Homo sapiens: one gene and its partners. The protein of the gene in region 3 purifies or fractionates together with the protein of the main gene of each other region. This does not show direct contact. Each region holds a gene or a part of one and is shown on either strand. Other genes may lie near its edges.

Region 1 (3,654 bases), on a different chromosome or scaffold from region 3:
AGGGTTCTAGGGGCTGAAATTCAAGCAGGCAGTCAGGCCTGCTTTGATGCCTAGATTAGGAATAATTGGTGAAGAGTGCTGAATTACAGTGTAAGTTTAGACCTATAACTTAATTTCCACCTGTACAGTGGTATTAAACATGAGTTTTTATCTTAAAAAGACCACGCAGGTCATAATATGTGGATACTGGGGGGCTGAGTCACGAGAAGGGATTAAGATGGTAACATCAACACCCACATTAGTCTGGGCACATTATTCAAAGCAGGGAAGTGTCTTTCCTTTTGGTAGGGGTGACCATGTGGATGAAGTACTACCATTCAGAGTACAGGACAGAGAGGTTGCTGAGTATAGATGCCAAATGTTGGACCCTATATCTGAGGACATCTGAGTCCCGAATGATGTTCAAAAAGAGGCTTCGACAAATTCTAGTTAGTAGTAACTGGTCAAAAAAGGACTCTGCCACGTACCTGCCCAGATCTCTGAGGTTACATGAGGGGCCAGTGGAGCAGCCATTACCATCAGGGCACACAAAGCATCCTCAAACTCGGGGCTGTGGAGAATGACGCTCTGAGAGGCTTGCTAAGGAAGAGGAAAAAAAAGTAAGAAGACTGAGGTGTAAAAATAAGCACGGGTAAGAAAGACCATTAATGTATCTGAAGTCCAGAGACACAAGCTGGTAGGAAGAAACCCCCTTTGCCATCCATTTCTGCTTGGGACAATGAACTTCCCCTACTTAATGATAGCACTGAGATAAACTACAGCAAGCCAGGTGTGGTAGCTGACACTTATACTCCCACTACTTTGGGAGGCCAAGAATTTGAGACCAGCCTGGGCACTATAGTGAGACCTCATCTCTATGAAAAATTAAAAAATAAAAAAAAATTAGCCAGGCACAGTTGCACACACCTATAGTCCCAGTTACTTAGGAGGCTGAAGTGGGAGGATCACTTAAGACCAGGAGGTCAAGGCTGCAGTGAGCTATGACTGCACCACTGCACTGAAGCTTGGGCAACAGTGAGACCCTATCTTTAAAAAAAAAAAAAAGCTCCAGCAGCAGCAACAACAAATACATGATGTTAACTTATTTAGTCCTCACCACTCTTTGAGGGTGGTATTCTTACCCCATTGGACAGATGAAGCAGCTAAGGATCAGCAAGGGAGGGCAATCTGCCCCCAGGCACACTGTAGCCAAACTCTTACCCACTCTGCTAGGTTTCCTCTGTGCTGCAGGTCCACAGAGAAATGCACTGAGACCTGCTCAAAGGTGTTAAACTGTGAAACACCTAGGGCAGGGGGGCCTCTATACCCTACTTAGGGACCCCTATTCTCTGAAATACCTTTGGTCAATTCCGGCAAACATAGTTGTGTTTAGCTCTGTGTGTTATTATTAAGGACTTCCCAAATTCCGGAATGGAAAGACAGAAATTCATTACAGTTTCATTTCAGTGTCTTGCTTTATTTTTTCTGATTAAAAAACTAACACACACTCAGCACAGAATATACAGGAAATGAAAAACTACTCATAATTATACAACCTAGAAAAAAAGGTATATTTTATCCTTGTCTCCAAAAATGCAAAAATGTGTATATAAATGCTTATTACACATGTAACATTTTCAGGATTGGTATTCTTGCCATATGAACACTTCCTTTTTTTTAATTTTAAAAATTAATTTTTTTTTTAAATAGAGATGGGGTATCTCACTATATTGCTCAGGCTGGTCTCGAAATCCTGGGCTCAAGCCATCTGCCTGCCCTGGCCTCCCAAAATGCTAGGATTACATGTGTGAACCACTGCACCCAGCTCATATGAACACTTTTGTATCTTTTTTTTTTGAGACAGAGTCTCTCTCTGTTGCCCAGGCTGGAGTGCAGTGGTGTGATCTCAGCTCACTGCAACCTCTGCCTACAGGTTTAAGCAATCCTCCTGCCTCAGCCTCCTGAGTGCCTGGGACTACAGGTGCACAGGTGTGCACCACCACACCCTGGCTGATTTTTTGTATTTTTAGTAGAGACAGGGTTTCACCATGTTGAGCAGGTTGGTGTTGAACTCCTGACCTCAAGCGATCTATCTGCCTTGACCTCCCGCAGTGCTGGGATTACAGGCGTGAGCCACTGTGCCTGGCCTTGTGTCATGTGTTTTTACTTAACATTATATCATAAACAGTTTCTGATATTAAGTATTCTTCAAGACATGAGGTTAATGGTGGTGGCACATTCCTTTCTTATTGATATGACATAAGTCATTTCACAATTCCCCCATCAGAGGACACTGGGGTTCCGAGTCTCTGTGATTATAAATTATCTGCAGTGAACACTCCTGGATCAGAGGATATAACACAATCAACCTGATAGCCGAAGTGCTTCCTGGCAAGGTTACACCAACCACACCTATCACTGGCGTGTAAAAGTCTATTCTGCCATCTTTGCAATAGCATGGGGAATAATTATGCCTTTATTTTTATTTTTTTGAGAGAGAGTCTCGCTTTGTCACCCAGGCTAGAGTACAGTGGCACCAAACAGCTCACTGCAACCTCAAATTCCTGGGCTCAAGGGATCCTCCCGCCTCAGCCTCCTGAGTAGCTAGAACTACAGGTGCATGCCACCACACTTGGCTAATTTTTAAATTTTTTACAGATGAAGTCTTGTTATGTTGCCCAGGCTGGTCTCAAACTCCTGAGCTCAATCGATCCTGCTGCCTCGGCCTCCCAAAGTGCTGGAATTACAGGCATGAGCCACTGTGCCTGGCCCTGAATAGTTACGTTAAAGTATTCTCAGCAAATTTGACAGGTATTTAAAAAAAAACAAAAACAAAAACAAAAGCATCTTGTTTTAAATTTGCCTTTCATGATAATTAGAGAGGCAGACTTTTTTTTCTCCACAAATGTATTGGCTATTTCTATAACATTTTCTATGAGTTATTATCTTTTCATATGCTTTGACCATTTTTGGTTAGGTATTTTCATATTAATATGTAAGAGTGCTTTACAAGGATATTAACCTTCTGTCTGACATGTTATAAATTTTTTTAACATACTGAAAATGTCAAGTTTTATGTAGTCAAATTTGAAATTTCTTCCATTGTTCTTTTTTATCTTTATTTTACTTTTTAAAAATTACCCTTTTAATTTTATTTTTAGAGACAGAGTCTCCTGCTCTGTTGCCCAGGATGGGTTCAAGCGATCCTCTCGCCTCAGCTTCCCGAGTAGCTACAGCTACAGCTGTATGCCACCATGCCAGGCTAATTATTTTATTTTTTTACTTTGTTTTTGAGGCGGAGTCTTGCTTTGTCGCCCAGGCTGAAGTGCAGTGGCGTGATCTTGGCTCACTGCATGCTCCGCCACCTGGGTTCACACCATTCTCCTGCCTCAGCCTCCTGAGTAGCTGGGACTACTGGTGCCTGCCACCACGCCTGGCTAATTTTTTGTATTTTTTAGTAGAGATGGGGTTTCACTGTGTTAGCCAGGATGGTCTTGATCTCCTGACCTCGTGATCCGCCTGCCTCAGCCTCCCAAAGTGCTGGGATTACAGGTGTGAGCCACCATGCCTGGCCTAATTATTTTATTTTCTACGCGGCCCAGGCAGGTCTTGAACTCCTGGCCTCAAGTGATCCTCTCAGCTTGGTCTTCCAAAGCGTTGAGATTACAGGCATGA
Region 2 (3,654 bases), about 15 Mb from region 3:
TACTTTAATTTTCTTTAATTTGGGAAATAGATATGATTTAAAATAATTTGAAGTGTGATGACTGTAATGTAGAGTTAGGGAAGTTTAAGGGGAGAGGGTATGTGTGTCTGCATGTGTGTATGTATGTAAATGTATACCTATATGTGTTATGGAGCTGTAAGCATATAAATTCAGCCTCTCCTTTCCATTGCTAGCTTGAACACATTCCTGTGGCCATACTCTGGCTGATTCTGGCTAAGGGCGTGAGTTAAATCAGGGTAGACCTTACCCCTTCTGTAGCCAGGGGCCAGAAGAGGAACACTTTCCTGCAGGCTTGCCTGACTGCTTGGATCACAGAATAGCTTAGATATAAATATTGTAAATACTGAGTAACTCAGCTGATTAAACCACTTTAATTGGACTTTTAAACTTTGTAGGACTGAAATATGTGGTCATATAGGCTTTTCAAATAGGAAACCCATTAATTTTAGTCATTGATATTGACTTTAAGCACCACTAATCTGTATTTTGGGGGAGTTTACATCTACCTCCTTAGGTACCTATTAGTACCAAGCATAATAGGAAAAAATAGGCTGGCATGGTGGCTCATGCCTATAATCCCAACACTTTGAGAGGCTGAGGCGGGCAGATCCCTTGAGCCCAAGAAGTTCAAGACCAGCCTCAGCAACATGGTCAAACCCTGTCTTTACAAAAAAATACAAAAATTATCTGGGCTTGGTGGTGCATGCCTGTAGTCCCAGCTACTCAGGAGGCTGAGGTGGGAGAATCACTTGAGCCTAGGAGGTTGAGGCTGCAGTGAGCTGTAATCATGCCACTGCACTTCAGCCTGGGCAGCAGAGTGAGACACTGTCTCAAAAAAAAAAAAAGGAAGAAATATTTTTTATCATTCTGTCCTGTTTCCTGTTGTAAGTCTCATGACATTTTCATGAGCATCTTTCTGGATGATGGACCTGGGAGTCATTTTTGAAATACAAAATTAAACCCAATTGAGATTATAATTGTAATGATTTTGTTAAGTACCTATTCAAATTAGGTGTTTTTTTTTGTTTGTTTTTGAGGCAGGGTCTCACTATGTTGCCCAGGCTAAAGTGCAGTGATGTGATCTTGGCTCACTGTAACCTCCGCCTCCTGGGCTCCAGCCATCCTCCCACCTCAGTCTCCCAAGTAGCTGGTACTACAGGTGCGTACCAACACACCCAGCTAATTTTCGTATTTTTTGTAGAGACGAGGTTTCACTACATTACCTAGGCTGGTCTTGAACTCCAGAGCTCAAGTAACCTGCCTGGCTCAGCCTCCCAAAGTGCTGGGATTATAGGCGTGAGCCACCGTGCCCAGCCTGAATTAGTTTTTTAGTAATAGCTTTATTTATTGTCAACAGTAAAAAGTTCTGTGATGATGTCATTCATTTTCATACTTTCTACTTTAGATAGTATAGAGTATATGCTCTTAAGTGACTTTTTATTTTGCATTTGTAGTTTTTACCCTCAAGGATTTCTAAAAATTTTGCTTTCTGCAGGTGTAGTTTTTCTCAAATTGATTGAGTAGAATAAAGCCAGATTTTTTTTTTTTGTCTTGGCTCACTGCATTTTCTACTGCCTGGGCTCAAGCAGTCCTCTTGCCTTAGCCTCCTATGTAGCTGGAATTATAGGCACATGCCACCACAGCTGACCAATTTTTGTATTTTTTTGTAGAGACAGGATCTCTGTTGCCCAGGCTGGTCTCGAACTTCTGCCCTCAAGTGATCCTCCTGCCTTGGCCTCCCAAAGTGCTGGGATTATAGGTGTGAGCTGATGCACCCAGTTGAAGCCAGATTTAATTTTTCAAATATTGGTAGAGTACTGTGTGCAGATTTTGGTTAGCAATAAATTATTAATACAAGCTGCAAGAAATGATTGGTTCAGAGCCAGAGTTAGAAGATTATTTACAGAAAGTGTTGGCAGCCCTTTCTTTAATGTGTCATTGAAAAATCATTCCCTTATAACACAGATTTTCAGAAGAATGTCTTACTAGAAATATACATATTTTAAATGAAGTACTTGGACATTGCGGCTATTTTTTCATTTTTTAGGAATTGTCTGGTTGTCTAATTAGAAAAAGGATTTAAACAAAATGTATGGGAGTTCACTTTCAATTTTTTTCTTTATCCATGAAATGGTTTAACTTCAGCTAGCTGGAACTGCATGGCAAAGTACAAAAATGGCTCTCAGTTGTCAAATTAGAACTTTTTCTGTAATGACTAAGAAAAGCATTTTTGTACCAACCATATGTTTTGCCAAATTTAAACTCTTTCAAATTTAAAATAAAACTGTTGCTTTTTGATATTCTATTCTCTCTCCTAAAATAGGTGATGTGAAAATTAGGACAGGAAGATTGATCTTAAATGTATTTTCCTATTATGCCTGGCAATGTTAGATAAGGATTAGCAATATGTACGGTGGCTAAGAAAGTCAGCACCTAGAAAATTGTCCAGCTTTGAATCCTGGCTCTGTCACTTAGTAGCTGAGTGACCTTTAGTCTCCTTATTATAAAATAAGATAAAAATAGTAAGTATTGAAAGTACTCATTGAAAGTATGTAAGGATTAAATGATATAATACATGTAAAGTGCTTAGCACCCTGCCCAGTGCATGATAGGCACTGAATAATTTTTTTTTTTTTGAGACAGAGTCTCACTATGTCTCGCAGGCTGGAGTGCGTGGTGGCTGGATCTTGGCTCACTGCAACCTCCCTCTCCTGGGTTCAAGCAATTCTCCTGCATCAGCCTTCTAGGTAGCTGGGATTACAGGCGCACATCACCACACCTGGCTAATTTTTGTATTTTTAGTAGACACAGGGTTTTACCATGTTGACCAGGCTGTTCTCGAACTCCTGACCTCAGGTGATCCGCCTGCCTTGGCCTCCCAAAGTGCTGGGGATTATAGGCATAACCCACTGCGCCCGGCCAGGCACTGAATAAATTTTAATTGTTATATAGTATTGTCAGTCTATTTAAATATACTGCTGTAAGATGGAGGATTTCTTTTTACTCAGAAGGTTCATTTTCTTTTTTCTTTTTTCTTTTTGAGACAGAGTCTTGCTCTGTTGCCCAGGCTGGACTGTAATGGCGCAATCTTGGTTCACTGCAGCCTCCACCTCCCAGGTTCAAGTGATTGTCCTGCCTCAGCCTCCTAAGTAGCTGGGATTACAGGAGCGCACTACCACGCCTGGCTAATTTTTGTATTTTTACAAATACCTCTACAAAATAACCCTACCTCTACAAAACCCCTGTAGAGACGGGGTTTCACCATGTTGGCCAGGCTGGTCCTGAACTCCTGACCTCAGGTGATCTGCCCACCTCGGCCTTCCAAAGTGCTGGGATTACAGGTGTGAGCCACCACACCTGGCCTTTTTTTTTTTTTTTTTTTTGAGACTGAGTGTCACTCTGTCACCCAGGCTGGAGTGCAGTGGCACATTCTTGGCTCACTGCAAGCTCCGCCTCCCATGTTCAAGTGATTCTCCTGCCTCAGCCTCCCAAGTAGCTGGGACTACGGACGCACACTACCACGCCTGGCTGACGTTTGTGTTTATAGTAGAGATGGGTTTTCACCATGTTGGCTAGGCTGGTTTCAAACTCCTGACCTTGTGATCCACCTGCCTTTACCTCCCAAAGTGCTGA
Region 3 (3,654 bases):
CATCCCAGAGAAAGTATAAGATGAAAAAAGTCAGTGGGCGGGTTCTTCCCTTGTCTCAGTATCCATGAGCCTCTCTGGGTTTGAGCATTTCTCCACACTGAATATGGATTCTGTGTTTAACAATACGGTTTTTTGTCTGTTTGTACAAAACCTAAACACAAGAATCTAGTTGACCTAGTGCTTAGTCAAAGAAACGGTGATCTCTTTCAACACTGGAGGAAAATCATTAGTGTTGTATTTGCTGAAAGAAAGTGTATGGGCCTCCAAAACAATATACTCCTAGTAAGCATACAATATACTCCTTTGCAAGGTAAGTTTAAACACAATTTTTATGTTATAGGCTGACAATAGCAACTAACCTCCTCCTGAGATACAACCCCATTGCTGTACAGTATATTTTTCTGCAACAATCATGTGTTATTTTTGAGATATTAAAAATAAAAAAATAGTTAATTTGTTATATCTCTAGTCTACATTTGAAAATAAAAATCTAGATATACATACCTGTTTGCCAGTGAAACCCTGGCAAATAATCTTTGTATTTTTATCAACATAGAGATGTTGCCGAGAAGCTGTGTAGGAACAATGCCGAATTCCATTCTGCGGCACTAAGAGGTTAAAAAAAAAAAAAAAAAAAAAAAAAGACACATTATAATTTTTCTAAACTTTTGAACAATAATTCAACTTGATCACAAAAAAAAAATTCTTTAATGCACGCGCTATCCTGTGATCACGGCAAACCTAAATGCCACCTTTTAAATAAGACACAGTGACCACAGAAATAAGAAAAACAGACAAGACATTGTTCCATTCTCCAGGATCCTCTCTTTATCAAGAACCACGATCTTGTAGTTTTTTCCTGAACTGAGGGAAAAAAAAGCAATGTTTATCATTTTTATTTCCTAGAAAAAAACTGGGGCTCAAAGATAAATGGTTAAAATTAAATCCAGGGACTGAAAACAAAATGTCACCCCTATTAACAATGTTTACTAAACAGCCACGTTTCCCCACTTGACCCAAATTTTTAAAGCCTAATACCTTTAAATAGGTAAGCTAAGAGGCAAACTTTGTCAGGAATACAAGTAAAAATCACTCAGCAACTCATTCTCTAGTAAGAACAACATATTAAATGTTAAGTCATAGGATAAAACTTATCTAAAATATAATACAAAATCACTTAATCTCTTCTGATATGAACTCATGTATAAAAGACACAGGGAAAATAAAACAAATAGGAAAGTAGACAAGACAGGAAAAAGCTTGTTAGGAAAAAAAAAAAAAAAAAACCCTAGGTTATTGCAGCAACCTACCTAAAAGAGAAATTGAGAAATCTAAATAGTTACTACAACCAGCTCCCCACATTTCAAAACACAGTAGGAGGAACATAGATGACTTAAAATTTTGGGCTACCTTCTAAATGTCCATTAATACTAACAACCTGACTTCTCTGTGGCCCATCCCTGGCCCTTTCAAAGTAGCCAGGCCTTCTACCTATCATTGTGGTAGCCCATGAAGCTAGCCCAAGAAAAGAACATAAGGAGTAATCTCTATTGAACAACAAAAAAAGAACACCTGTCACATATTTGCCCAGAGTCCACTCCATGCTTTCTGCCTTAAATCACTGCCTCATACCCACCTAAGTCCTGACCTCACATTACATAACTGAAAGAGCAACAACATCTGCTTCTGGAGGAAGTATATGGAATCCCTTACACCTCTAGGGAGAAGACAGGCCCAGATTTAGCCCTTACCACCTGGATAATATTTGGTACACACAAAGAACTGCTACGTAACAGGCAGCTTTCTCATACTAGACTGTGCTCAACAAGGGGCCATGGGCTTTGCAGGTCAAGTTCTGGCACATCAGTCACAGCTAAGCATCTGACTCTAGGCCAGTGGACACAGCAGGGATTTATGGCCTGAGACCCTGTCCCTACTGAGCTGTGCAGCACAGCCCACCCTTGCCAGTGCTGCATTCGAGACCCATTCTTGCCCTTGGCTTCCACTTCTCCCAGCTGAACACCTACAACCATGGTATTTGTGTAGAAGCTACACCCTTTCCTACCCTGCTACAATTTCTGACTAGTGGAATTGGCTTTACCAGTCCCTCCCATTGCATCTTCAACAAATGCTCATATCATATCATATCATATCATACCATATGTTTTCAGACCAGAAGGTAGAAGATTTGATTATAAGATCAGATGTTATGATCAGGATATCTGGAGTCCCTACTTGTTAACATAAAATACTTTTTGTAGGTAAAGTTTGGTTCTGCACAAGTACTCTTATACTCACTAACTTAACAAAGATCAGACAATTCACTTCTCCTTCCACAGGAGCAGAAGTCACCCTGAGAAAAGGCAGGTCTGTCTGTGTCCCTAAAGCACAGCTCCAATAACAGACCAACGAAGATCTCTGCTTTCTCGTAGTAACTCCAGATCTCCTGGATCAATTCTATGGAGCTCAAGATTTTACAACATCAGATCTTTGGTGCTCATAAAAAGTGTATCAGAAGTGTGATAAACAGCAGCTTACCTCCCAATCCCCTAGCCTTTTAGTGTTACTCAGCCTGTGCAATGCCCCTGAGAGCCTGCAGCATCTAATTAACTAAATCTTGGGAAACCTCTAATGCACAGGTGTAGATGTGTGTGCGCTCATGCATGTGTGATCTCCCCATCTACACACCAGGCCTGGGCTCATACAGACCCACTTCTAGATAAGCTGGAACTAACAGACTATTATCGTCTTACAGGCAAATCCAAGAAATGTATTCAATGGCAAGGAAGTGAAATTCCTGATCACATTCCATCCTGACAATAAACCTGTATGATGCCAGACAAGGTTATCATCTGGTACTGAAATGTGAGTTCGTTCATTGATTCAATCAACATTTGAGGAGCACCCATACCAAGCCATAATGTCAGGTGTCAAGGATAAAGTGATGAATGACAGTGTCTCAGCCCTCAAATAATTCACAATCTATCTGAACTCATATAAAAGTGGGCCATAACTGCGTGGTGTGTGAAGTACTATAATAAAAAAAAAAAAAAGCCTTGGGCATTTGGGGTGGATAAACTCCCCACACCTATTCAAGGTAGAGAAGTCTATGAATGTGTAAGAGGTGGGGAGGGTGACAAAGCCACCAAATTACTACAGTAAGTGACTTCCTAAAGTGAAATTTAGAACACAAGGCATACATTGGTGGCCAAACCATCTTGCAAATATCTCTTACCTTTCAATTAAAGATTTAATGTCCTCAACTTTCTGAGAATTTCACTTACATTGATCCATATAAATTAACATTTAAATAAAACATTACACAGTCAAGAATTCCTATATCTTCACACGATATACATGATTTATGAGTATACTGGGGGACTTTAAAAGGGATCTGAGATTAAGAAGAATAGAAGCTACAAACGCTTTCATGTGGGTATACAATAAACACCATCACACACTACATTACTGAGTGCACACATATTCTTACTCTTTTCATCATGTTATTTTTAAGTGAAATTATCTAAGCTTAAATTTATTTCAAGACTATTTCAAGTACCATCTAAATACTTTTCCCACTGCTAACTGTAAACTCCATGAGTGTCAGGACCATGTCTTACTCATCTTGTCTCCTATGGTATATGGTCAGTGCCT

What was found.
Region 1: the proteins of SUCLG1 (region 3) and LARS2 purify together in Homo sapiens (affinity purification with mass spectrometry; 2 studies listed by BioGRID and IntAct, with this or other methods). This does not show direct contact.
Region 2: the proteins of SUCLG1 (region 3) and NFU1 fractionate together in Homo sapiens (co-fractionation; one large-scale study listed by BioGRID). This does not show direct contact.

What each region holds. Positions count from the first base shown.
Region 1 is NC_000003.12:45,520,922-45,524,575, reverse strand, and holds part of LARS2 (leucine--tRNA ligase, mitochondrial), read right to left. Parts: intron 580-3,654; coding exon 468-579; intron 1-467.
Region 2 is NC_000002.12:69,427,430-69,431,083, reverse strand, and holds part of NFU1 (NFU1 iron-sulfur cluster scaffold homolog, mitochondrial), read left to right. Parts: intron 1-3,654. UniProt on the Homo sapiens protein: Iron-sulfur cluster scaffold protein which can assemble [4Fe-4S] clusters and deliver them to target proteins.
Region 3 is NC_000002.12:84,449,145-84,452,798, forward strand, and holds part of SUCLG1 (succinate--CoA ligase [ADP/GDP-forming] subunit alpha, mitochondrial precursor), read right to left. Parts: intron 609-3,654; coding exon 505-608; intron 1-504. UniProt on the Homo sapiens protein: Succinyl-CoA synthetase functions in the citric acid cycle (TCA), coupling the hydrolysis of succinyl-CoA to the synthesis of either ATP or GTP and thus represents the only step of substrate-level phosphorylation in the TCA.